7 linked regions of the Homo sapiens genome follow. The protein of the gene in region 7 interacts with the protein of the main gene of each other region in a biochemical or structural test. Each region holds a gene or a part of one and is shown on either strand. Other genes may lie near its edges. The genes, in order: UBXN7, UBAC1, CCDC69, MBP, EPN1, APEX2 and MAP3K1.

Region 1 (2,633 bases), on a different chromosome or scaffold from region 7:
CCATCTCAGCCTCCCAAAGGGCTGGGATTACATGCATGAGCCACTGCATCCAGCAGCAATAACAATTTCTGTCATACCATATAATCGTATCTCCTTTTTGCCCATTAATTTAGTAATTATCTTTCCTTCAATTAAGCTAAGTCCTTAATTAACCATTAGTAATTACTGCTGGTCTGAAAGAACAGACACTGAATATTCGCCCAAGTATGTCAAACACAGAATCATACTTACCTAACAAGCCTAGCTTACCCAATGTTTCTGTAACAACTGGACTAATATTTACAGAGTGTTTACCATGAATGTTTGACATACCACAAAGAGCAGAAAAAAGGCTAGCAAACGTTACACATAACAACGGGACTACAAAGTAACCTTTGTCAATCAATAGTAACTGACCTAAATGAGAACGTGAGGGGGCAAGCTTTTGGAATCTCAATTGTATTACTGAAAGTAATATCCAGAGTCTTATCTTGTAAAAACAACAACACAAAAAAAACTAATACTGAAAAGTTTTTGTTTTTATTTCCAAGATCAAATATTACAACAGGACATTTACATGTATTTATAAAAAAATGCAGCAGTTGAATGTATAGATCAGAGGTTTCCTTGAGTTTGGTCCCTCTCTCAGCACAGTGAGCTGATGTCTTCAAAAGACTTATCGTCCCACTCCCTTCCCTCCCCCACCCCATTGTCCCCCCACCCTCCCCGTTTCAAGTTGCAGTATTAATATAAAGCAACTGGGTACAACACAGCAAGAGTATTCACAATTTGGTACAGACCAAACCAGAGGATCCCCAACTGACAGCAAGATCCTCCTTCTGGAAATTATTACCTATAGACTAGGTAGATCTATAGGTAGATCACACCCAGTTATCTAAGATTTCCCTGGTTTTAGAGCAAGTGGAAGTTCCATTGAGTCTTAGCCAGTAGTTACAACTCTGCGTTACCTAATGGCATGTTTTTCTCCTCTTACAAGTTTAATTTTCTACCGCCTCCATGTGTCTTCAAATTTAAGGCTTTCCCAAGCACCTTTATTATGACTTACTAGATATACAGGAGGGTCTCTAATGTGTCTTGAACAAAAAAATTTAGTGGATGGTCCAGCTGCCCCTTGCTCAACAATCCCAAAGACTTCTTCCCACCACTGAGAAGAGCTGCAGAAATCAACGGTATCTCCTAGCACCATTGGAGAAAAGGCCCAGAAAACAGAATTCGATGTGCATTTTAGGGAGCACTTGCCAGAAACATTACAACAGGAGCACTGTCTCTGTTATCTTCTTGGATTCAATCACAAATTTAGAGTACAGATGAAATTTAGAGCCTGTCCTGCATTAAGAATGCAAATCTCAGTAAGACCACCCCCACACACACTTTGTCCAGAATAAGTTGAGCCACAAACATCCCAGGGAATCTCTAAATACTGTTAGGAACTGCTTTAGAAAACACTTTAAAGCAAATACCCCAAGTTGACTTCACTCAAGCCCCCAACCCACCCTCATCATCCCTATCCCCCTAGAAATTTCATTCCTTGATTAACTTCTCTGAGTAAGATGTAAAGTGAGGTTTGGAAAATGACATGAAACATGAAACATGTTTAAAAACACAATCAATGAAGACATGCCAGAACTGGACATCCCAGGTGACTTCAAATGCATTGTTCAAGCCGAACTCATACAAAGCATGCACAGAGCCTGCACAGACACTGCTGAGAGTTTCCAGGGAACAATCAATACCTACTCGAAAAAGGACTTTCCTGAAGGGCAAACAAAACAAAACAAAACAAAACAAAACAAACAAAACAAAAAGTAACACTGGATGTTTAGAATTTGTTAACAACAACAACAACAAAAAACCATTCTGGAAAAAAAGATTATCAGAGGAGTGAAGAAAACCGTGTCTAACAGATTCATGCCAAAGCTTGGATGGAAGCCCCTCAAAGTCTAAGTATCGTGTTAGCATCAACTGGTACTCATTTCTCTATATCTAAGACTAGAAGATTCTCTCACAGCTTTACTGTTTCCTGGCAAGTGTTTTCAACAGCCTTTCCAGCTGAAGGGACGAACCCAGGAAAGTAACAAGGCCCAAGACCCCACATGGGTCAGATAAGCAGCCCCTACTAGAAGCTTGCTACTCGTTAACTGAAAAGTGGAGGCCACGCACTACTTTCACTCTCTCTAGCAGGTGAAAGGGGATTTTCTGATGGCAACAGTCACTCCGTGTAAGGTTTAACTTACAGGGCAATAAGTTATCAAAAAGTTATTGTTAAAAGCATATGATTAGTGTCATAAACATATTTATATTTGGAATTACACCATTTGATATCTCCATTAAGAATGCAAAGCTTTGAGAAAAGCATACTGTAAAATCATGTTGCTGCAAACAGCAAGGCATCCAGCTGAGTGTAAGCAGTCTAATGTCATCAAACTGAAATGGACCCTCGTGACGGGCACTATGGAACCAGCTACCTAGATAGAGAGAAAAAAGGAGAATGGCAGGGAACGGTTCCAGATCAAGAATCTCTCCCTTATCAGTTAAGAGTTCCATACTGAGTCTATGAAAAAAGCAAATTAAAAAGATTTTAAGAAAGGGGGAATTCAATTCCAGGTCAGAATTTATCTAATGATTTGATATGT
Region 2 (3,500 bases), on a different chromosome or scaffold from region 7:
CAGCTACTCGGGAGGCTGAGGCAGGAGGACTGCTTGAGCCCAGGAGGTCAAGGTTGCAGTGAGTTATAATTGTACCACTGCACTGCAGCCTGGGCAACAGAGTGAGATCCTGTCTCTAAAACAAAAACAAAAACTAAATTAAAAATTAATGTAGGCCAGGCGCAATGGCTCATGCCTGTAATCCTAGCACTTTGGGAGGCCGAGGCAGGTGGATCACCCGAGGTCAGGAGATCGAGACCAGCCTGGCCAACATGGTGAAACCCCATCTCTACTAAAAATACAAAAGATTAGCCGGGCGTGGTGGCACGCACTTGTAACCCCAGCTACTTGGGAGGCTGAGGCAGGAGAATCGTTTGAACCTGGAAGGCGGAGGTTGCAGTGAGCTGAGATCACGCCACTGCACTCTAGCTTGGGTAACAAAAGCGAAACTCTGTCTCAAAAATAATAAAATAATAATAAAAATAATAATAATTAATTCATAAAAATATGAACTGACATCTTACAATGTTTCAGTTTGCAAATATTTGAAGAGAAAAGGTAAGCTCCTCAGGTTAGCTCCAAGCTACCCATCCAAGAGGCTGTGGGGCAACGGGTGTATGGTCAGACCCCGCTGTTTATATTAGTTACGGGCCTGTAAGTCTGAACACCAACGGTCAAACTGTAATCTGAGAACTGTGAATGCTGCCTGCAGCAGTTCCCAGAAACAGGCCTGACTCAGGGACAGGCGGAGGCAGGCCCAGATCTGTCCGCTGCAGATGGGTGGGGCGGCAGCCTGTGTGTCACTCATGCGTGGCCAGGTGTGGCTGAAGATAAGGAGGGGACCCAAGCCCAGGGTGCTCTTCCTGGGTACCCATGGTCCCAGATGAAACCCAAAAATAGCTTATGCACTACCAGGCATGGGCCTAGCCCAAAAGAGTTTGACCTGCTCTTTCTCTGGGGTGAACACTCTCCTTAGCCTTTCAAAGCACGAGTAAGAAATTCTACCCTTGAGATGAGTAATGCAAAGACAGCAGAGGAAAGTGGCTGCCCTTCTAGCTGGCAGGCTCCATGCTCGGCACGGGCTCAGGCCCTGCTGTGGGGTAGGACACGCCACTTGCAGAACGCATCTTCCTCTGCTCAGTGAGCTTTCCAAAACATGAGCTTCTAGGGCAGCCAGTAAACAACACACTGCACGGTGTTCCTAAGGTACACGTGCAAGTGGACGGTGCAGACCATGAATCAATAACGTGTGAGTGAATGTAAACACCAACGACATCCAGTTCTGTTTTGCAAGAAATAGACAAGACAGGCAGAACTCAGCCTCTCTCAGCATTAACAGTGCAGCTGAGTATCCCTCATCTGAAATGCCCGGGACCAGAACTGTTTCGGATTTCGGGTTTTTTCAGATTTGGGAATATTTGCATTCCAAATAATCAACTCAAAAAGCACCAACGAGCACTTCCATTAAGTGTCATTTTGGCACTCAAAAAGTTTCAGACTGCGCTGCATTTCTGCGTTTGGATTTTCCGATGGGGATGCTGAGGCTGTGCGGTGTGAGGTGGGGCTTGTCGCGAGTGCTCCCTCACCGGCCACTCTCTGCATGCGCAGCCCTTATTCTGTGTGGTGGTTGGTTACCCACTTTCCTCCGTTTTTCTGTCAGGACTGACTTGGCTGCTTGAAAAGAGGAGGGAACAGGAGCACACGCAGGTGAAGGCGGACAGCAGCGCGGGAGTGAACCGTCACGCAGGATGTGTCCCTACCCTCCTCTCTGTCTCAGAAAACTCAGAGGCAGGTTTTCCGTGCTGGTCCCGTGAGCAGGGAGGGACCAGGACTGACACGGATTAAACAGGCTCTGCCGGGAGAGAGAACCCCTTATAACCACATCTACTGTAAATGGCGAATGCGTGGGTTGGTGAACAACTAGTATAGAGAACTTCTTTATAATTCTTTTTTTTTTAAGTTTGTATTTATTTATTTAATTTTGAGATGGAGTCTTACTCTGTCGCCAGGCTGGAGTGCAGTGGCACGATCTCGGCTCACTGCAACCTCTGCCTCCCGGGTTCAAGAGATTCTCCTGCCTCAGCCTCCTGAGCTGCTGGGACTACAGGCATGAGCCACCATGCCCAGCTAATTTTTTTTGTATTTTTAGTAGAGCCGGGGTTTCACCATATTTGCCAGGATGGTCTTGATCTCTTGACCTCGTGATCCACCCGCCTCGGCCTCCCAAAGTGCTGGGATTACAGGCGCGAGCCACTGTACCCAGCCTGTAATTCTTAAATGTAGACTTCTACCAACCAAGGTCCCCAATTGCAAACTTTGAAATTTACCTTTTCTTCTGCTGAGACATCAGCCATCTTGGGAAGTGGTGATGGAGCACGCTTTTTTATCAATAATAGGACATCTAGAAAAAACAACACGTATATCCAACACACTGGTTATCACTTCATATCCACAAAATGGCATAAAGGGTGCTGGATGCCCTGAGAACAGAACAGCAGGGATTCGGCCGGGCGCAGTGGCTCCCATCTGTAATCCCAGCACTTTGGGAGGCTGAGGCGGGCAAATTACCTGAGGTCAGGTGTTCAAGACAAGCCTGGCCAACACGGTGAAACCCCATCTCTACTAAAAATACAAAAATTAGCCAGGCGTGGTGGCGCATGCCTGTAATCCCAGCTACTGGGGAGGCTGAGGCAGGAGAATCACTTGAACCTGGGAGGCGGAGGTTGCACTGAGCCAAGATTGCACCACTGCACTCCAGCCTGGGCAACAGAGCAAGACTTCATCTTAAAAAAAAAAAAAAAAAAGAAGAAGAGCAGGGCTTCAGCTGGGTGCAGTGGCTCACTCCTGTAATCCCAGCACGAGGCAGGCGGATCACTTGAGCCCAGGAGTTCAAGACCAGCCTGGACAACATGGCGAGACCCCATCTCTACGAAAATATAAAAAATAGTTGCGCATGGTGGCACATGCCCGTAGTCCCAGCTACTTGGGAGACTGAGGTGGGAGGACTGCTTGAGCCCAGGAGGTCAAGGCAACAGTGAGCCTGACTGTGCCTCTGCACTCCAGCCTGGGTGACTGAGCGACACCCTGTCTCAAAAGAGCATGGGTTCCTTTGGTCCCCCCAAACCAAGCATCTACACCAGCCTTCCCTCACTTTTGCATGATATCTGCATGGCCCTAGCTGAGGTACAAGCTCCCAGGCCTGGCACGAACCCCCAGGTGACCCATGGCCCAGGAGGCAGGCACAGCACGGCCCCAATAATTGTGCAAAGAATTGGTGACAATCCTGCAACAGGCATTTTAACCGGCTCAGTTCTGAAAAAGTCTGTGAGGGTGGAGAGTTTAGTCTTAACCCTCAGAGGTCAAAACCTGAGATGCAGCTCATCCTCGGCCCACGACGGTGCCCATCCCCCACTGGCTTGGAGCTTGATGGTCATCTCAGCGGATATCTGTTAGCAATACTTCCAGGATTTTCAAAACAGCTTACTTCAAGGACTTCCACAATTAAAGGCATTATTTGAATG
Region 3 (3,500 bases), about 94 Mb from region 7:
CAGACTCACAGCTGAGGCTAGAGTCCTTTCCGTCCCCCTGATGCCAGGGTCAGCTTTATCTGAGTAGCTGAGCCTGTAGGGGAGAGGTGATTCTAAGTCTCAAGGGGCTCAGGTCACACCCTCCTCAATATCAGAGCTGCCTTTCCGGTGTCTGGCCCAGCACCACTAGTGCTGGGATCTAAGTAACCACAGTCAGAGCCTATTGGCCGAGGGTAGAGGCAGGAAGGAGGCGGGGAGTGTGGCCCAAGGGGCCCCACTCCAGGGCCTTCGGGGAGGAAGGGCGGGGCCTAAATGATCAGGGCTGTTGAGAAATGTTAGTGTTCACACCCGAATTACAGAAGCTCAGACAGAACACCATAAATACAGGCCTTAGCCTCCCCATCTCTAAGATGGGCAGAGATATTCTGCCAAAGTAATGCCTGAATTTGATGTCATTGAAACTCAAACACTGCCAGGGACATTAAAGATTTAATTCATCCCCTTCATATCATATAGTGTGTGGTCAACATTTCCTCACTGGCTGGAGGACAGTCCAATGTGATTGTACAACCAACTTAAAGTTAGAAGTGCCAGGCTGCACCACTCCGCTGCACCGGGGACACGGCCTATGCTCTGAACACCTGCAGGACCCCCAGAGCACACAAGTCAGGGGCGGATGTGGTCTCCACTGCTCCTATCTGACCAACTGATGAGGTGTCTCAGGGGAGCAAAGGACCACTTCCTTCTTAAATACCCCTGCACCTGGTGAGCCAGACCACAGCAGACAAGCATCAGAAGGGCCTTGAGTGCAAGGCCTCACTTCACAGACGATGACACTGAGGCCTAGAGAAAGCCTTTCTAATACACCTTATTTATTTTCTTCCTCCCTAGGGCTCCCGTTTTCTTGTCCCATATCAGCTTCCCAGGGTGTCTGCTAGTTCTGGTTGCCTCAGAGGGCCTGGAGCTGGCAAAAGCACTAGACATTATTTCTAGCATTTGGGTCAGCCTGGCAGGCAGGACCCTGAAGGAGCTGGACAGAAAATGGTGTCAGTAGCTGGATGGGGGTGGGGAAAGAGACAGGCTGAGGGCCCAGATACCTGTCTCCCAGTCCAATGGCAAACTGGAAGGCCAGAGCCAAGGTCCTAGCTTGCCATCTGAGGCTGAGCGCCTGGATACCTGTCTCACAGTCCAATGGCAAATTGAGAGTCCAGAGCCAAGGTCCTAGCTTGCCATCTGCTTGCTGTGTGACCTTGAGTGGACACTCTTCCTTTTCTGTGCTTCTGTACCCTCCTCTGCATGGCATGGAATTGTGCAATGGGATACGTAAGAGCCCTTCTGGTTTTGACATGCTGTGGATGGGGAAGAAGGGGCAGAGTGAGGTCATCTTGCTATCTCATCTTCTGTCGATCCTGTCCGGCTTGTTTGCTCTGGGCAGGGCAGAGGCAGTTTGACACACTCAGCTGTTAGCTCTGGTCATGGAGGGGGCTTCTCTGGAGAGCAGGAAAGGAGGGTCCCTTGCTCAGGAGGCCTGGGTGAGAACCTGGAGCCCTCCACACCATCCCCTGTTCTTCAGCAGACAGTGTAAGGGTGGTTGTAAAAGAGAGGGCGGGATTGCCTGAAAGCAGAGAATGACAGAGCTCAGCCATCTCCCAAGTTGCACGCAGCATGCTCCTAATTCTACAGTAGCACTGTGAACAGAAATAAGTACCCATTAGTGAGGACAAGGAGGATGCACAGGATGCTCAGGGCAGGACCATTTGCAGTAGGGAAATGCTGTAAACTGAGGACTGGCTGGATATACTCAGGGACATAATACTATGTCATTTCATTCATATGTTTAAGAGAGTGAAGTAGACCTTTATGTACAAAGATGGAAAGGCATTTGGTAAAATACCAATATCCAAACTAAACTATTTCTTTTCTGTCACCCAGGCTGGAGTGCAGTGGTGTATTCTTGGCTCACTGCAACGTCCACCTCCCAGGTTCAAGCAATTCTCCTGCCTCAGCCTCCCCAGTAACTGGGACTACAGGCATGTGCCACCATGCCCAGCTAATTTTTGTATTTTTAGTAGAGACAGGGTTTTACCATGTTGACCAAGCTGATCTTGAACTCCTGACCTCAGGTGATCTGCCCGCCTTAGCCTCCCAAAGTGCTGGGATTACAGGCGTGAGCCACCATGCCCGGCCAACTATTACTAATGATAAAAAAATGCATAGGAAAAAGTACCTAGAAAAGCACAAACTGATAACAGTTGTCATCTCCAGAGAATGGACTAAAATTACTGTGGTCAAGGAAGGGTAGCTTCCATTTTACATTTTACCTAAATTATTAGGATTTTTTTTTTTTTTTTTTTTTTTTGAGACTGAGTCTTGCTCTGTCACCTAGAGCGAGTGGTGTGCAGTGGTGCGATCTCGGCTCGCTGCAGCCTCTGCCTCCCAGGTTCCAGCGATTCTCCTGCCTCAGCCTCCTGGGTAGCTGAGATTACAGGCACGTGCCACACGCCCGGCTAATTTTTGTATTTTTAGTAGAGACGGGGTTTCACCATGTTGGTCAGGCTGGTCTCAAACTCCTGACCTCAGGTGATCCGCCCGCCTCAGTCTCCCAAAGTGCAGGGATTACAGGCGTGAGCCACCACGCCTGGCCAATTCTTAGGATTTTTAAAGCAACAACGCATTCAAGAATTACTTATATACAAAGAAATTAACAACAACAAGAAAAAGGTACCTCTCTTGGAACCTGAAAGCCTCCCCCAGAGTCAAGGTACAGACAGAGAAATCAAGGCTGGGGAAGAGAATAGTTAGCAAAAGAGGCAGAAGTGGACCCATTGTTAGAATGATGAATACCAGAGGTTGGGAAGGACGTGTGTGTGGGGTGCGGGGAATGAAGAAAGGCTGGTCAAACGATACAAACATACAGCCAGATGGAAGGACTACATTCTAATGTTCCATAGCAACCATGAACTGTATACTTTAAAATAGCTAGAAGAGAGGACTTGAAACGTTCCCAACACATAGAAATGATAAATACTCGAGGTGATGAAACTCCAAATACCCTGACTTGATCATTACACAGTCTATGCACCTAACAAAATATCATATGTACCTGAGAAGTATGTAAAATATTATATATCAATAAAAAATATAAAGAAGTAGGCCCCATTCTTGACTCCCAGTCCAGTGCTCTTTCCTCTACAGATGCAGCTGCTGGTGTCCAAAAGCAATGGGCCCTGTCCAGGCACCTCCTTGTTTACAGTGCTGCCTCTTCTGCTGCCAAGATGGGTTCCAAAGGGAGGCACTGGGTTCTTGCTGTCATTTTTGATTGCTGGCAACTTGGGGCTGGGGGTGAGAGGGTGGGTAAGGAGCAATTAACCTTGCGATATGAAAGTTTCCTAAAGCTGCTGTAACAAATTACCACGCACTTGGTGGCTGAAAACAACAGAAATGTATTCTCTCACAGTTCTGGAAGTTAGAAGTGTAAATTCAAGGTATCAGCCGAGCTGGCTCTTCTGGAGGCTCTGAGG
Region 4 (3,500 bases), on a different chromosome or scaffold from region 7:
GCGCTTCCCGACTGTATCTGCCACGGATTGCACCGTGCGCTCCGTGCGTTCTCCAGAGAGCTCACTTCTCTTGAGATTAGGCTCCCATGTAACGCTTAGCCTAAAAACACAGGCTTTGCAACCTATGGAGAGTGCTTGCCATGGGCTGGGAGCGGAGGGGGCAGCAGAGAGAGCACAGGGCATTTTTAGGGCATTTTTCGGGCAGCGAAACCGCTCTGTCGAGGCTGCCATGGTGACTGAAGACCACGCACTTGTCCAAACCCACAGCGTGCACAGCACCGAGAGAGCCCTAAGGCAGTGTTGCTAATAAGGGAAACTGTTCGGGGTATGTGGAAACTAATTTCTGCACAGTTTTTCTGTAAACCGAAAAGTGCCATGCAAAACGAAGACGATTAAAAACAAGAACAAAACCACAGGCTTCTAATTCCAAGATCTCAGTGCAGCAGACATTTTATGCTCGTATTCGATAAGTGCACTTAGGAGCTGCAGACCTGGGGACATCCCCTTGGAAGCTCTGAATGTCAGAGGGCCCGCTACTCCTAGCCCCGGAAAGGGCTCACGGTGAAGCAAAGTCCGCCGCCTCCCTCAGTGTCCCAAGATGGGCCCATTCCCCAGCTACGGAGCCTCTGGGAGGTGTTTTCCATCCTCTGAAACACTTCCTGAGTGCTCTGGGAGATCTGCATCATCTAGAATATTTTCAATCTCAGGTCTATACTTCTTCACCAACTAGGACAGAAGTGGGGAGGCTGGGCACCCGGGTGCTTCTGGCAGCTGATGGATGCTAGCCACCCTCAGCAGGCAGGAGCCCGTTAGGAAATGGACGGCGGCACAGGGCTCCCAGTGCAGCCCACGGTTCTCTGTGTCTTTCCAGGTGACGCCTCGCACACCACCCCCGTCGCAGGGAAAGGTAAGACCTTGGAATGTTTTGATTGATCATCACTTTTCTGATAGACCTTCTCTAAAATCCCATAATGTACCAAAGAGAGAGTTAGGCTCCGAGCTACCAGAATCCATCCCAAAACGTGTTGCCAGGCAGCTCCCAAGTAGAACAGGTCGGCAGATCCATGCACCCCTCCTGTCCCTCCCGCACCTGCACAGCCGCTGTGGCCCTGAGCCTGCGGCCCCCCTCGGAGCTCCGGGTGGAACCTGTTTTTACCACCTCAGCTCCACTGTGCTTTGACTGTGTTTCCTGTTGATTGAAAGGACTTTCCCTTCACTGACCACCATGTCATTATTTCTCTGTCTTCCTCATGCAGGGGAGAGGACTGTCCCTGAGCAGATTTAGCTGGGTAGGTGACGAACGCACTTCCATCGGCTTCCTCTTCCGTCCCAGTCCTCACAGCCCCGCAACTTTTGTGTTCTGCTCTGTTTCGGTTGCTTCCTGGCCTCCTTTTCTCTCCTCTCGAGACCTCTCTGCCCACAGCTGGGATCGGGCCGCCTTGTCTTCCACTGGGGAAATGAAACGTGGTCTTCCCTTCCGGAAGGTCTGGTCTCTTGCTTCTGTGCCGGGGACCCAGCCCTGCAAGGCCAGATCCTCTTCTCCCAGAGGGTTCCCAGGCGACGTGACTGGTCTCCCTCCCAGGGAGGGAGCAACACCACGTCCGAGAAAATGTTTAACTTCCTCCAACACAACCAGTGCGAGAAGCCCCAGGAACCCGCATGTGGAAGTGGGACTGGCTGGCCCGTCTCAGTGACCCCAGATGCTGACACTGGGAAAATGATTCTGCTGATGAACAGAAAAAGAGGCTAAATAGAGTTGCTCGATTTATAATAACCTCATTAATCCAAAGATTTTTGTTTTGTATGTGTTTAAATAATAATTAAAACATAGATATCAAGCCATCCAGAAAATCTTCCTTAGGAATTTTAGGCTGGTTAATACTGAAAGCAAACTTTCAAGGAAGGTTTAAAATGGCCAATTTGAACTTTCTAGTGAAAAAATTTGGTGTCTGAGCCAAATTAAAATGCCAATCATTATATTCTAACCAAACTTACAGACTTTAGTTACTAGCAAATACCAGATATGATTCTTACTGTATAAAAGTTATAATTTTAGAATAAAATGGAGGAATAACCACCAACGTATTGTAGATAGGTTGTGTCTGTCTCCGAAACTGCAATGCTCTCATACGCTAGAACAGAGCCTACCTACACTTTCTGCTCAATTAATAAGCATCATATAAATGAATGAATACATTTTAAAAGAAAAACAACAAGGAGAAAGAACAGGAAGAAAGAACAGGGAAAGAAAACAGAAGGTGGGGAAGAGGAAGGAAGAGAGGGAGGAAGGGGCAGGGTACTTGAGAGACCATGAGGATCCCAGATCAGTCCCACACATGATTACACTGAATTATGAACTAAGATATTTACCGAAACGTTTTCCATTAATGCATATTTGACTTGCTTTTTCTGACCTAATGAATTTGCAAAACGATGACAATCATGTAGCAAATGTACATGGACTAGTACTCACAATTAATTTTTTATTTTCTATGCCAGCAGGAGACAAAGATGATAGAAGAATGAAATTCATTTTTGACCCAGAAATCTTATTTTAGCTACTGCTTTATCTGCTCTTAATTTTCTAGGAGTGGACTTTGGGGCCGTCGTGCCGGATCCTCCCTGAATGTGGAGCGATGGGGGGTTGCACACAGGCCGTTCTGCCCCAGCAGCTAACAAGAAAGACCCTTGCATTCCTCCCTGCATCTCTCCCTTTTGGGTCCTACTAATGTCTGTTGAATTTCTCTTTTTTCCAAAGCAAAATCCTTCTCTGCATTTTGTCTGCTTGTCTGTTTCCCAGAGCCGCAGGACTCTCTCCTTGTCTGGAGTTCCAGAGAGCCCCCACTTTCTCTTTCTAAGCTGTGTTGTGTGTTTCCTGGTACATTCTAGGTTCCCCAAAGATAAACATGACTAAGGATTGGAAAGGAGGAAAGGCCGCGCAGATTGTTAATCTGAAAGTCAATCCCCGGATTTAGCTCTCAAAAATGCTTTATTTTTGGAGAAAAGCAATAGAGTAAGACAGAAGGACTTAACGCTTGCAGGGAAGTGGCTTTCTGCCATGTAGAGCCAGGCTGGCAACCTGCCCTCTGCCATCAGGGAGTGAGCATGAACCTGGAAACCTCTAGGACGCAAGAGCGAGGCTGGCTGTCCCCTCGTGTGCAGTGCTTAGACCTTCTTGCCACACATCCCGTCCCTCACCTCACTGGATAGCCCCCGAATCAACTGTTCACACGAAAGCAGCTGCCTGGTTCTGAGTGGCCATGCTCACTCCCAAGCACAGGCTGAATGAAAAGAAAACTGTGCAAGTAGCTTGTATGGTGGGAAGCCCCCAGCAGAGGCTGAGGGTGCAGCCAGGTGCTCTGGAAGCCTTGAGGCCTCTGGTGTCATCTTCCTCACCTCTAAATAAGAGATGGGCTAGGTTGGTCAAGGTCCTCCCTGTCCTAAAACACTTTAATGAAATGGAAGAAAGGCTGCAGGCTGATAGAGGAGGGACAGTCTGG
Region 5 (3,500 bases), on a different chromosome or scaffold from region 7:
TGTGCTGGGCTCTCATCTGACCCCCGCCCTTGCCCCCTCCCCTGCACCCAGGACGCCCCACCACTGCCCGGCGCCACTGGCTCGATCTGTCCCTGTCCAAGGGCACAGTCAACCAAAGACAGGTGCACACAGGCGTAGGGGCTGCATGCAAGTGGGCCACGCACTCACCATCGGAACTTCCCCATGGATCAGGCGTGGGCCCCTCCCCAGCTGCAGGGGCTGGGGTCCCACCCCAAGGGTCAACTGAGGGTCCTGCAGGGGCAGCAGGCCTCCAGGGGTCCCCAGAGGCCGGCGTGGGGGCTGGACCTCCCCAGGGATCAGCAGCTGGAGGGACAGGGGGGCCGCCCCAGGGGTCCGAGGTGGGGGCAGCCGTGGGGACGGCAGCAGCCATGGGTGCTGGGCCCCCCCAGGGGTCTGTGGTCGGGGCAGGAGCTGGGGCCGTGAAGACGTCAGCAAGGTCCATGAGGGACGACTGTGGGGGAGAGAGAAGAGAAGGAGCATGAAGAAGTGGTGGGAAGCCTGGGACAGGGACCAAGCTGGGGCCCGTGGCGGGGGAGGCGGCCAGGCCCTGGGTGTCCAGACAGCAGCCATCCATAAGGGGTGAGAGGGAGGCAGGCCCCAAACACACCACCTGGCCTCCCTCCTCATCCGTCATGGGGTCGGCCCACCCCTGCCCACCTACCCCACCCGAGGGTACCACCAGGGAGCCCCAACACAGCCCCACTCCTGCCCCACATCCATTCTCCACACTGCAGCAGGGCAGCCCCTTAACTCCACCTGCTCCCAGGTCCTTGCCCGGCCCTGACTGAGGATGGAGGCCAAGCCCTCCCCTCGCTCGACCCGAAGCAGCTCGATCCTCCCTCTGCCCACCGTGCCTTCTCCAGCCAGACTGGCCAGCCCCTGCTCCATGCCTTCCCCTGGGAAGCCCCCCATGAACCCACTCAGGTCAACCTGAGCACCCCTCACGATGCCCCCTACGTTGCCCCGCCGTCACCCCGCAGTCATCGCGCTGCAGGCCTTCCCACGCCCATTGCCCCACTGTCACCCCGCAGTCATCGCACTGCAGGTCTTCCCATGCCGCACGCACACGCATGCATGGTCCTGTGTTCTGGAAGTGGGCACACGACGGGCCCAGCTAACCAGAGCCCGTCTCAGAACGTGCAGATGCCCCCAACATACTCATGCACACATCTCCAGTCAGCACCCGTGAGGCAAAGGCCCCGGCGGGGATGGGAAGGGGAGAAGAGCTGAGTCCAGGGCAGGGCAGGAGAAGAGATGGGTGAGATCTGGTGCTCCCCCAGCAGGGCAGCCCTTACTCGGGTCACTGGGCTGTGGTGGACACTGATAGAGACCCCCTGGCCGAGGCCAACCTAAAGAGGCTTTCCGTCTACCAAGAAAGTCCCACTGTGCCTGATCACTTATGGCCACAAGCTGTCTGCCGCCTCCCATGGAGAGGAGGCCTTGTCCCCACCCCTCAAACTTGGGCTGGCCTCAGGACCTGCTGAGACCAATAGCAGTGCACAGGCTGACGAGGCAACTCCAACCCAGCCCGACGAGCTTGTCCTGGGGGGCGGCAGCAGCAGCAGCTACTGTGCTATGAGGACACTCAGGACAGACTAGTAACCAGGGAGAGGCCAGGGGAGGAGGCTGGAGGGCAAGGCCAGTGCGGACACCCCGGGCCCAGAGGCATGAGTGACCTCAGCCATGACACGAAACAACCAGCCAGCGGGCCCGTCACAGGGAAGTACTGAAGCGTGACCTGGAAGCACAAGGTTGTGGGAGGGTTTGCTACTCAGCTGCAGAGCATGGGGACGCCACAGAAACAGTGTTCGCGAGGGCGGGACCATGCCTCCTCGCTCACCAACAGGCCCTGGGTGTGCAGCACACGGCCTGGCACCAAGGAGGTGCCCGACAAAGTGTGACAGATGGGGCGAGCCCTGCACCCTCCTCCCTGTGGCCATGCCAGGCTGTTGGCCTATTCTGGGCCTCCCCATTCAGCTGTGGCGGCCGGTGGTGGCCCTCACGGTGCTCAGCCCGAAGGGGGATGGCCAGCGCTGACCACAGGAGGTGGCCGCAGGGCAGCCTGGTCAGTCACCGGCCTCAGCCCAGCAGGGAGGGAGAGGCACAGAGAGGCCGACCAAGCCTGGAAACCCGGTGCCCAGCTCCAGGACCTTGTGTTTCAGTCTCTGCTCCAGGGACCTGGCCACGCAGGAATGAGCGATGGGACGGACGGACACCTGCAGGGGCCAGGGAGGGCAGAACAAGCCCCGCTCACCTCCTCCTTGCCCCCAGTCTCCCTCTTGCTCTCCTCGATTGCCATCTGCAGCCGCAGGTCATCCCCGCGACGGATCCGCTCCTCCTGTTGGGGCACGGGCACGACCAGGGAGACATGAGAACGTGAGCCACGGGCAGATGCCACCTCAGCCTGGAAGCCCCAGCAACCCCTCCCACCCCAACGAAAGCGGCTGAAGGATTCGATGGGATGCGGACAATGTATGAAATGGGGATGGGGCACCTGGGTCAAAGGTCAGGCGGGACAGGGGATAAGGGGAGTGGGGTGCTGTGCTGGCGCACCCGGGGAGGACGGGCACCCGCCTCGGTGGTATCTCCTGCGTTGGGGGGAGGAAGGGACCCTGGTCACCCGAGCAACCTTGGCACAGCTGTGCTGGCCACCACCCAGGCTCTGTCTGACTTGTGGTCCTACATCCTACGGCTGAAGGTACTGAGGTTTCAACACGCGTGAGCCTGTGGGCTTCGGGCCCAGCAGGATGGTGGGGGGTGACTTAGGAAGGGGCGACGGGGCTGGTCTGAGGGGAGCCCCTGGCAGGGGCAGGGACAGGGAGGCTGCTCTGACCTTATCATGCTCTTCTCGGCTCAAACTAAGGGCCAGCTGGAGCTGGGCGTCGTCCTCGGGGCCGCAGGACGGGGGCTGGGGGAGAGAGAGTGTGAGGGGCATGACGGGAGGGGCCAGAGGCAGAGTCAGAGGCAGAGCCAGGGTCAGATAGAGCCGAAGAAAGAGAGGGCTGGGGGTCCCTGAACCAGTGAGGGACAGGCAGAGAGTGACACGCAGAGGGACGGCGGGGTGAGGATGAGGCAGGACTGGGGAGGAGACGAGTGACAGCATGTGGAGCAGCGACAGTGAGGGCCAGGCCCACGCCTGGCTGGGAGGGAGCCTGAAGTGAGGCGTGGAGGCGGGTGGCGGACAGACAGCCCCAGCTGCACGCCCAGTACCTGGTCGGCCTCCTCCTTGCTCATGGCCAGGGCCAGCTGGAGCTGCAGCTCCTCCTCCCCGCTGCTCTGCGGCCACGCCTGCTCCGCCTCGGGAGGGGGGCCTGAGCCCACAGCTGCTGATGAGGCTGGAGGGCGGGTGAGAAACGCGTGAGACCCAGACCAGGGAACGAGAGACAGGAAACCCCATAGCCTAGACAGACGGGGGCTTCTGTGTCCAACCCCACCCCCCAAGTCCCCCACCCTACAACCTCTGCAGGCCAAGACTAGGA
Region 6 (3,097 bases), on a different chromosome or scaffold from region 7:
GGAAGGGACTTAGACTAACTGCTGCATTTTGCAAATAAGAAAATTTGGTTGTCCCAAGAGGACTACTGCTCAAGGTCACACAGTCCGGAATTGGCAGAGCTGGGATTCTGATTTTCATCCTTACTGATTTAAAAGACCATGCTTGTTTTTCCCTCTGCACGAGCTTGCATTTGTCTTGCATTGGTCCGTCAATGGCAAATCTGAAAGTTTGCTTACTCAAAGCAATTCCTGGAACTGCTTTTCAAAAGGATGGAAAACAGGAAGTTAAAAGTGTTTGCCTCTAGGAAGCAGGGCTGGGGTTAAGAGTTAGGAAGACTGTCAGCTTCTTCCTTTAAACCCTCTGGCACTATTTGGTTTATCTAGTGTGTCAAAGCCCTCAATGACCATTCCTACCTCCTGAGCTGAGGACCTGCAAGGATCCAGGTCTGAATACTTCCTTAGGCTCTGATCCCCAATCCATCATCCATCAGTCCATCCATTCAATCCACCTACCCACCCACTCATTCAATGCAAGAAATGTTCATGGAATACCTATTATGTGCCATGCATGATGCCAGGGACAAAGTAGGAACCTGATCTACTCCTGGGGACCAAGGAGGCTTCCTTTCGAGAAGTGATCTGGAGCTGAGGTGTGGGGGCTGAGTAAGAGTAACCTAGGTGGAGGGTGCTCCTAACTTTAAGAACAGTCTCTGTGCTGGGCCTGTGGAGGGAGTGTGCTGCGTACCCAAAAGACTTGAGGAAAGACCAGACTGGAGACCAGAATACCAGCAGGAAATGGCTGCCATAGTCACACAAGCAAGATGATGGTCACTTGGACTAGGGTGGGTGCCAGAGGAGACAGAAACATGAAATTATGAGATGATTTGTAGCTAGAATCAACAGTACTTGCTGACTAACTGAATGTGGGAAGTGGAGTAAGAAAGAAAGACAATACTAGCACAATTCCCAGGCTTTAAGTTGAAGCAATCAAGGGGATGATGGTGCCATTTACAGAAATGACAAGACTAAAAGAGCAAGCCTGGTAGAAAGTGGGTATGTTCTGCTATTTTGGAAAGACTGTGTAAGTCATCTGAGCTGGCACTATTAGTTCTCTTTTCCTGGAGGAGAAAATGAAAGAGGTATACATAAGAGATCTAGGATACCTCTGAACTAAGTAGAAAAGGCACAAAGATGTATGATGCTATCACAGGAATCTGAAAGAACACACTGAATGAATGCATAAGAGGAATGAGGCAGGGAGGGACTGAAGGCTCACACTTTGTAGCATTATCTCCGCTCCCCACCACACCACCACCACCATTCTCTCATTCTCTCACTTCTGCTCATTTTCCCAGCTGGGAGCCATATCTACATTTATGTAGCTCTTCTGTGAATTAATCAAGGAATATTCCCACGGTCCCTTCTCTAAGCCAAGCCCAGTGCTGAGTAGGACTGTACCAGCATAAATCACTGATCCCCCATCGTGAGACATAAGGCAAGAAAAGATGAGAGCTGGCTTGTGGATTCTAGGGCAGTGGTTCTCAAGCCTGGCTGCACAATAAAGTCACACTGGGGGCTTTTAGAACGTGCCACTACCCTGGCCCCACACTCGAGAGTTCTGAGTTCATTGATCTGGAGTAGTGCTAAGATATTGATATTTTTGTTCTAATATGCAGTTAGGGGCTGAAAACCATGGGCCTAGGGGAACTTAGAGATAAGAGGTTCATATAACAAAAAGACAGGGAGGGGGTCATGTCCACCAATTCAGGGCACAGTGAGAAAAGCCAGAATGAGAATAACTTTTACAACGGGCCGACAGGAGACAACCTGTCTAGAGAGGACAAAATGTGTAGGGACACTGAAGGTGGAAATAAGAGACAGGTCACAGACCAAGGAGAGCCTTGAATGCTAGGTCTCCATGTTTTCTCTGCATCACAGAGGTAACAGGGAGGTACTGAAAGTTCATAAACAAGAAATACAGTGTATTAAGGAAATGACCAAGGCAATGTGGAATTCACAGTCCTTGAAATCTGACCCCCAACAACTCTCCAGCCCCACCTTCTGCCACTCACCTCCCTTCCTGTGTCACTAAGAAGAAAGGGACTTGTGGTTCCCCATGCACACAATGCAAATTCTCACCTTGAAACCTTTGCCCATGCTAGAATGCTTTCTACTTCAAAGCTCTGTTCTACTCATCTGTTAAGATTCAGCCATTTTCAGCTGCCTGTCCTGATGTCCGAGCTCACCTAGGAATCCCATCTCTGAGCTCCTGTAGCTTTCTGGGATGCCATCTGTGCCTCTGCCCTGAGAATACCATCCTATAATTGGCTAGCCATGTGTCTGTAGCCCACCACCATGCTGGAGAGCTCCTAGGAGCCAAGGGCTGGATCTGACTCCTGAGTCCTCAGTATGTGGCTCAGGGCCAGGCCATGGGCAGAGTCAGTATTGTCTATTGAATGAATGACCAATCCTCAGTACTATAAGAATAGTATTGCAAGCCAAGCTCCGCTTTCCCATAAAGGAAGCTGTCCCTGGGCCAAAAACTCAGGGTTGGTTGGCTGGACAAACAGAATCAGTCAGGAGTGGGGCCAGGCACCTAGAGGGAGCCTTACCAGGTTGACTGCATCCCAGTGGTCAATGGGGCGGTGGGCTGTATTCAGGTCACCCAGAATGATCACATGGCTGAAAAACACAATGTGGGATTGTTAGAAAGGGGTGCAGCAGTCCTGGCCCATATACTTTTTCCTGGGCCCAAGAGCTCAGACAGGCCCTCTCCCATATTGAGGCTTCCTAGCCAACAGCAACTCATAACAGCCTACCTCTCCAATCTTACCACAAACTTGCTGCCTTTCATATCTGACCAACCCAATTCTGATCTCCAAAGGTGACAGTGTTCCATGTTTGACATGACTGCCTCACTAATCAGGAGCCAATGGGCATTTTTCTTGTCCTTCAAAGCTGAGCTCAGATACCACCTCCCCTTGATTGCTCTAACCCACCCTCACTTTCCTGTCCTCCGCTGGAACAAGACTTTCCTTTGCTCCCACGCACTTTACCATTCTCATCTCATTTTACCCTTAAAACTATTGTGTAGGGTAGAGATTCATATATTCATTTG
Region 7 (3,500 bases):
ACTCCGTCTCAAAAATAAATAAATAAATACCAAACGATATACAAAAACTCCTAAAAAAAGACAGTTCTTGCCTTCAAAACTCGTCTTAAGCTAGATCATGATTAAAATCTCACTACAGTAAGTTAATCTTCAGATATACTAATTTAACCACTTTTGGAAAATTAATTCATGTTAACATTTCTGGGTACCTAATATTCATGGGTGCCAGACACTAGTCTAGATGCTGGGAGATGGTGCAAAGAATCAGATAAAGTTCCTGGTCTGTTAACAACTGATGTTTAGTATTCAGAATACCATAAGACCAGTTTGAAGATTATGTGTTAACATATAACTTAAATTATTGTTTAGGCAATGAAGAAAAGTAAAGCCAGACACAGTGGCTTGCACCCATAGTTCCAGCTATGTGGAAAGATCACCTGAGCCCAGGAGTTCGATTCCAGCCTGGGCAACATAGTGAGAACCCATTTCTAATTTAAAAATAAAAAAAGAAAAGTAATGATAACATCTGTCAAGAGCAAAGCTTCCACCTACACCCCAGTACTGACCCTGTTCTCACTCCATGTCTATCCATCATTATGCTTACAAGTGATGAACTTAGTTAACGTACTAACTACAGTACTGTGTAGGCTGTCCCATGTGGCTCCAAGCACTTTCTCCAGGCTTCAAGAGGTCTGGTGGCTTAGTAATTCCCAGGTGACAGATGTGTACTTGCAGAATTATACACTTGGTGAGTTTTAACAATTCCCCTTAGTATGCTACAACATCTCCACATCTCGATCAAATTAACATCTGCATCAAACCAGCCTGGTATTCCAAAGGACTCAATCACTAACAATACAGAACTCCCTTCCATACCAAACATAACTCAATCACCAATGACATGCCATAGAGTAAATAAAGACAAGGCTATCTTCTTGATCATCTTATGCCCTAAAGAATATTTTATATTTCTCCATGTTGTTTTCGTAACTAGTAGAGTTGCTGTTACTAATAATAAAGACAGAATTTCAGAACTAGCAGTAGCAGATGTTGAATTTCTTGCTCCCCGTATCTCCTTTTTAATTTTCCCTTGGAAGAAAAAAAAACATGCCTGAACATGCAGTGTTGTATATATTCTTATCAGAAAATAGGCAGAAATAGTTTGAAACTAATATGTTGTATCCCCTCTGTATCCCCATCTCTCTTATAGCACTTAACACGGTATTGTGAAACATGTTCATACTACAACCTACCGACAGAAACAGCTTGTGCACTCATGATCTTTTTCTCCACCACTCAAGACCACCACCTTGCAGAAGTTCATAAATGTTGAATGGATGAAATCTAAAACAATAACAAAGGGGTAGGGTCTAGCAATAGTAAAAGTTTCTCTTCCTGTGTGATTACCATGAATGAACCATATTAATTTCAGCTTATCTCCTTTCACTTATGATTTAATACAGCACAAATCAATAAATCTAAGAAACATTCAACACTAATGACTAACCCTCTTTGGCTGACATGATAGGGTGATCCAAATACAGTTTACTTGTATTACATATACAAGGCCAGGTTACAGAAACATACCTATTATATACATTAACAGGCAAACTTAGCACAGGGTAGAGACCTAGCTCATGGTCTATTAGAATGCCTGCAAAACAAATTTCTCCTTAAAAATAATCAATTAATTTGATTATTAATTTGAAAAAAGAAAATGGAAGAAGCAGAGTAGTGGAAAGAAATGGACTGTGGAGTCAGTCTGACTTGGGATTGAATCCTAGCTGTCTTCTAGTTGTGTAATCATGAGGTTTTACCATCTCAGATGAGTTTGCACCTACAGAAAACAGAAATTACACTATCTTAGGGGGCTGCAGTGATGATCAAATGAGATTATATATAAACATATATATAATACATATAATAGATATCATACACACACACAGAAGGCAAAAGAGTTGATTATGTAAAAGGTATCTAGGCATATCTATATGCTCAATGAGTATGTTTTAAGCCACAGATAAAATCCTAATATATTTTTGCAAACTGAAAAGAGTATCTGACTAATCTCATGCTTTGCAATGAACCATTTACTAATTCCGGCCCTGATTATTTCTTTCATGATTAAACATGTTCTTAAATAATTTCTTAAAGACAACTTTGGGTTACTCCTAATCTTACACATTTCCTCACATTAATAGTCTACCATTTACATGTTTAAGTTGCTTTAGCTTTTAACTTAGGATATAGAAAGAGGCAAGGACTAAGGAAAACAACCAAGTCTATACTTGATATATTTGATAGAAGCAAAGAATTCCAAGATTAGAGGTGTAATATACACGCAGTTCCTAAGCAGCCTCTAGAGACTACTACTTTTCCATGACACATTTTCCCATCGCCTTCTGTGTAACAGACAGCCCTCAACCCAAGAAGATGACTGGAGTACAAAATGCAAAAGAGGTGCTTTCTACCTGAGAGCATTTCTGAATGCCCCATATTTTTCCTCATGGTAATCCATTCCCCATTAACTACCTTGCCACCCCCTCATTTCTTCCTTTGGGATGCACACAGCCAGTGTCAAGGACTGATTAGCCGACTCAGCCTAGGCAAGCTGTAGCTGGTTTTTTTTTTGCTCTTGTTGAAAGCAAAAAAACACTCCTTTCTTCCCACATTTTGAAATCTGCAAGTTGACAAGTCAGTGGCCATTTCTAAAATATGCAACATATTATGCTCGAGGTGCTATGGAAGTTGTAAATGAATATCAATGAACAGGGCTACTTCCTGTTTTTCGTATCTAACAAAATGGAGTTTTAGTGCATTGGAAATCGTATATTAAGGAATGTTGGTTAACCAGTCACTCTTGCCAAAATCAGATATGAAAAGAAAATAAAAGTTGGCAACAATTCTAGCTCTTATATTTCTCTTCCAGAATTATATTAAGGTTCATCTTTGAAGAATGCATTAATTTTCTTATCTGATTTAAAATGAAACTGACACCATTCTTAACTAAAAACTTACAAATTCACGGAAGACTAACTTATGTGACTACCTTTATTTTTATAAAGTCACCCACTTAATATTTTAAGAGTAATTTTTAGGTAATAATGCTCTTATACCTCCTCTTTAGTAAAAGGTCACTAAATCATATTTTTAGCCTAATAGCTTTAAAAAGGAAGTGAAATCTGAGGGCTATATGAGGATATAAAAGCAGCCTGTGAAATACCTTTAGTTTTAAACAAAAACTAACATTAACAAGTACAGCATATCTTGTTCTTTCACGGGGCCAGCAAATTGATAGTTTGGTTTTTTAAGTTACAAAAATAGGATGGGGTAATTATATCTACCAAACTCACAATAGGCTGTTCAATGGAGAGTAACACTGTAATTTTTCTTCAAAGACAGTAAATAGGAAGAAAAAGCCCCTAAATTCTGTAATATAAGGAAAAATTCCAAACCCTTGGGCGCCACTTACAGGCACTTTCACTGATTTCAGCTATCACCCTGAAAAAGAGGGACAAACT

The links.
Region 1: of the proteins of MAP3K1 (region 7) and UBXN7, one has a biochemical effect on the other in vitro, tested with the Homo sapiens proteins (one large-scale study listed by BioGRID).
Region 2: of the proteins of MAP3K1 (region 7) and UBAC1, one has a biochemical effect on the other in vitro, tested with the Homo sapiens proteins (one large-scale study listed by BioGRID).
Region 3: of the proteins of MAP3K1 (region 7) and CCDC69, one has a biochemical effect on the other in vitro, tested with the Homo sapiens proteins (one large-scale study listed by BioGRID).
Region 4: of the proteins of MAP3K1 (region 7) and MBP, one has a biochemical effect on the other in vitro, tested with the Homo sapiens proteins (one study listed by BioGRID).
Region 5: of the proteins of MAP3K1 (region 7) and EPN1, one has a biochemical effect on the other in vitro, tested with the Homo sapiens proteins (one large-scale study listed by BioGRID).
Region 6: of the proteins of MAP3K1 (region 7) and APEX2, one has a biochemical effect on the other in vitro, tested with the Homo sapiens proteins (one large-scale study listed by BioGRID).

The regions. Positions count from the first base shown.
Region 1 is NC_000003.12:196,347,162-196,349,794, forward strand, and holds the end of UBXN7 (UBX domain-containing protein 7), read right to left. Parts: 3' UTR 501-2,633; downstream 1-500. UniProt on the Homo sapiens protein: Ubiquitin-binding adapter that links a subset of NEDD8-associated cullin ring ligases (CRLs) to the segregase VCP/p97, to regulate turnover of their ubiquitination substrates.
Region 2 is NC_000009.12:135,951,374-135,954,873, forward strand, and holds part of UBAC1 (ubiquitin-associated domain-containing protein 1), read right to left. Parts: intron 2,381-3,500; coding exon 2,307-2,380; intron 1-2,306.
Region 3 is NC_000005.10:151,214,093-151,217,592, forward strand, and holds part of CCDC69 (coiled-coil domain-containing protein 69), read right to left. Parts: intron 1-3,500. UniProt on the Homo sapiens protein: May act as a scaffold to regulate the recruitment and assembly of spindle midzone components. Required for the localization of AURKB and PLK1 to the spindle midzone.
Region 4 is NC_000018.10:76,986,284-76,989,783, reverse strand, and holds part of MBP (Golli-MBP), read left to right. Parts: intron 1-871; coding exon 872-907; intron 908-1,256; coding exon 1,257-1,289; coding exon of another isoform or gene 1,290-1,694; exon of another isoform or gene 1,695-2,081; intron 2,082-3,500. UniProt on the Homo sapiens protein: The classic group of MBP isoforms (isoform 4-isoform 14) are with PLP the most abundant protein components of the myelin membrane in the CNS. They have a role in both its formation and stabilization.
Region 5 is NC_000019.10:55,688,726-55,692,225, reverse strand, and holds part of EPN1 (epsin-1), read right to left. Parts: intron 3,357-3,500; coding exon 3,232-3,356; intron 2,930-3,231; coding exon 2,855-2,929; intron 2,360-2,854; coding exon 2,276-2,359; intron 473-2,275; coding exon 169-472; intron 1-168. UniProt on the Homo sapiens protein: Binds to membranes enriched in phosphatidylinositol 4,5-bisphosphate (PtdIns(4,5)P2). Modifies membrane curvature and facilitates the formation of clathrin-coated invaginations. Regulates receptor-mediated endocytosis.
Region 6 is NC_000023.11:55,003,363-55,006,459, reverse strand, and holds part of APEX2 (DNA-(apurinic or apyrimidinic site) endonuclease 2), read right to left. Parts: intron 2,662-3,097; coding exon 2,592-2,661; intron 1-2,591. UniProt on the Homo sapiens protein: Functions as a weak apurinic/apyrimidinic (AP) endodeoxyribonuclease in the DNA base excision repair (BER) pathway of DNA lesions induced by oxidative and alkylating agents.
Region 7 is NC_000005.10:56,818,549-56,822,048, reverse strand, and holds part of MAP3K1 (mitogen-activated protein kinase kinase kinase 1), read right to left. Parts: intron 1,817-3,500; exon of another isoform or gene 1,304-1,816; coding exon of another isoform or gene 1,233-1,303; intron 1-1,232. UniProt on the Homo sapiens protein: Component of a protein kinase signal transduction cascade. Activates the ERK and JNK kinase pathways by phosphorylation of MAP2K1 and MAP2K4. May phosphorylate the MAPK8/JNK1 kinase.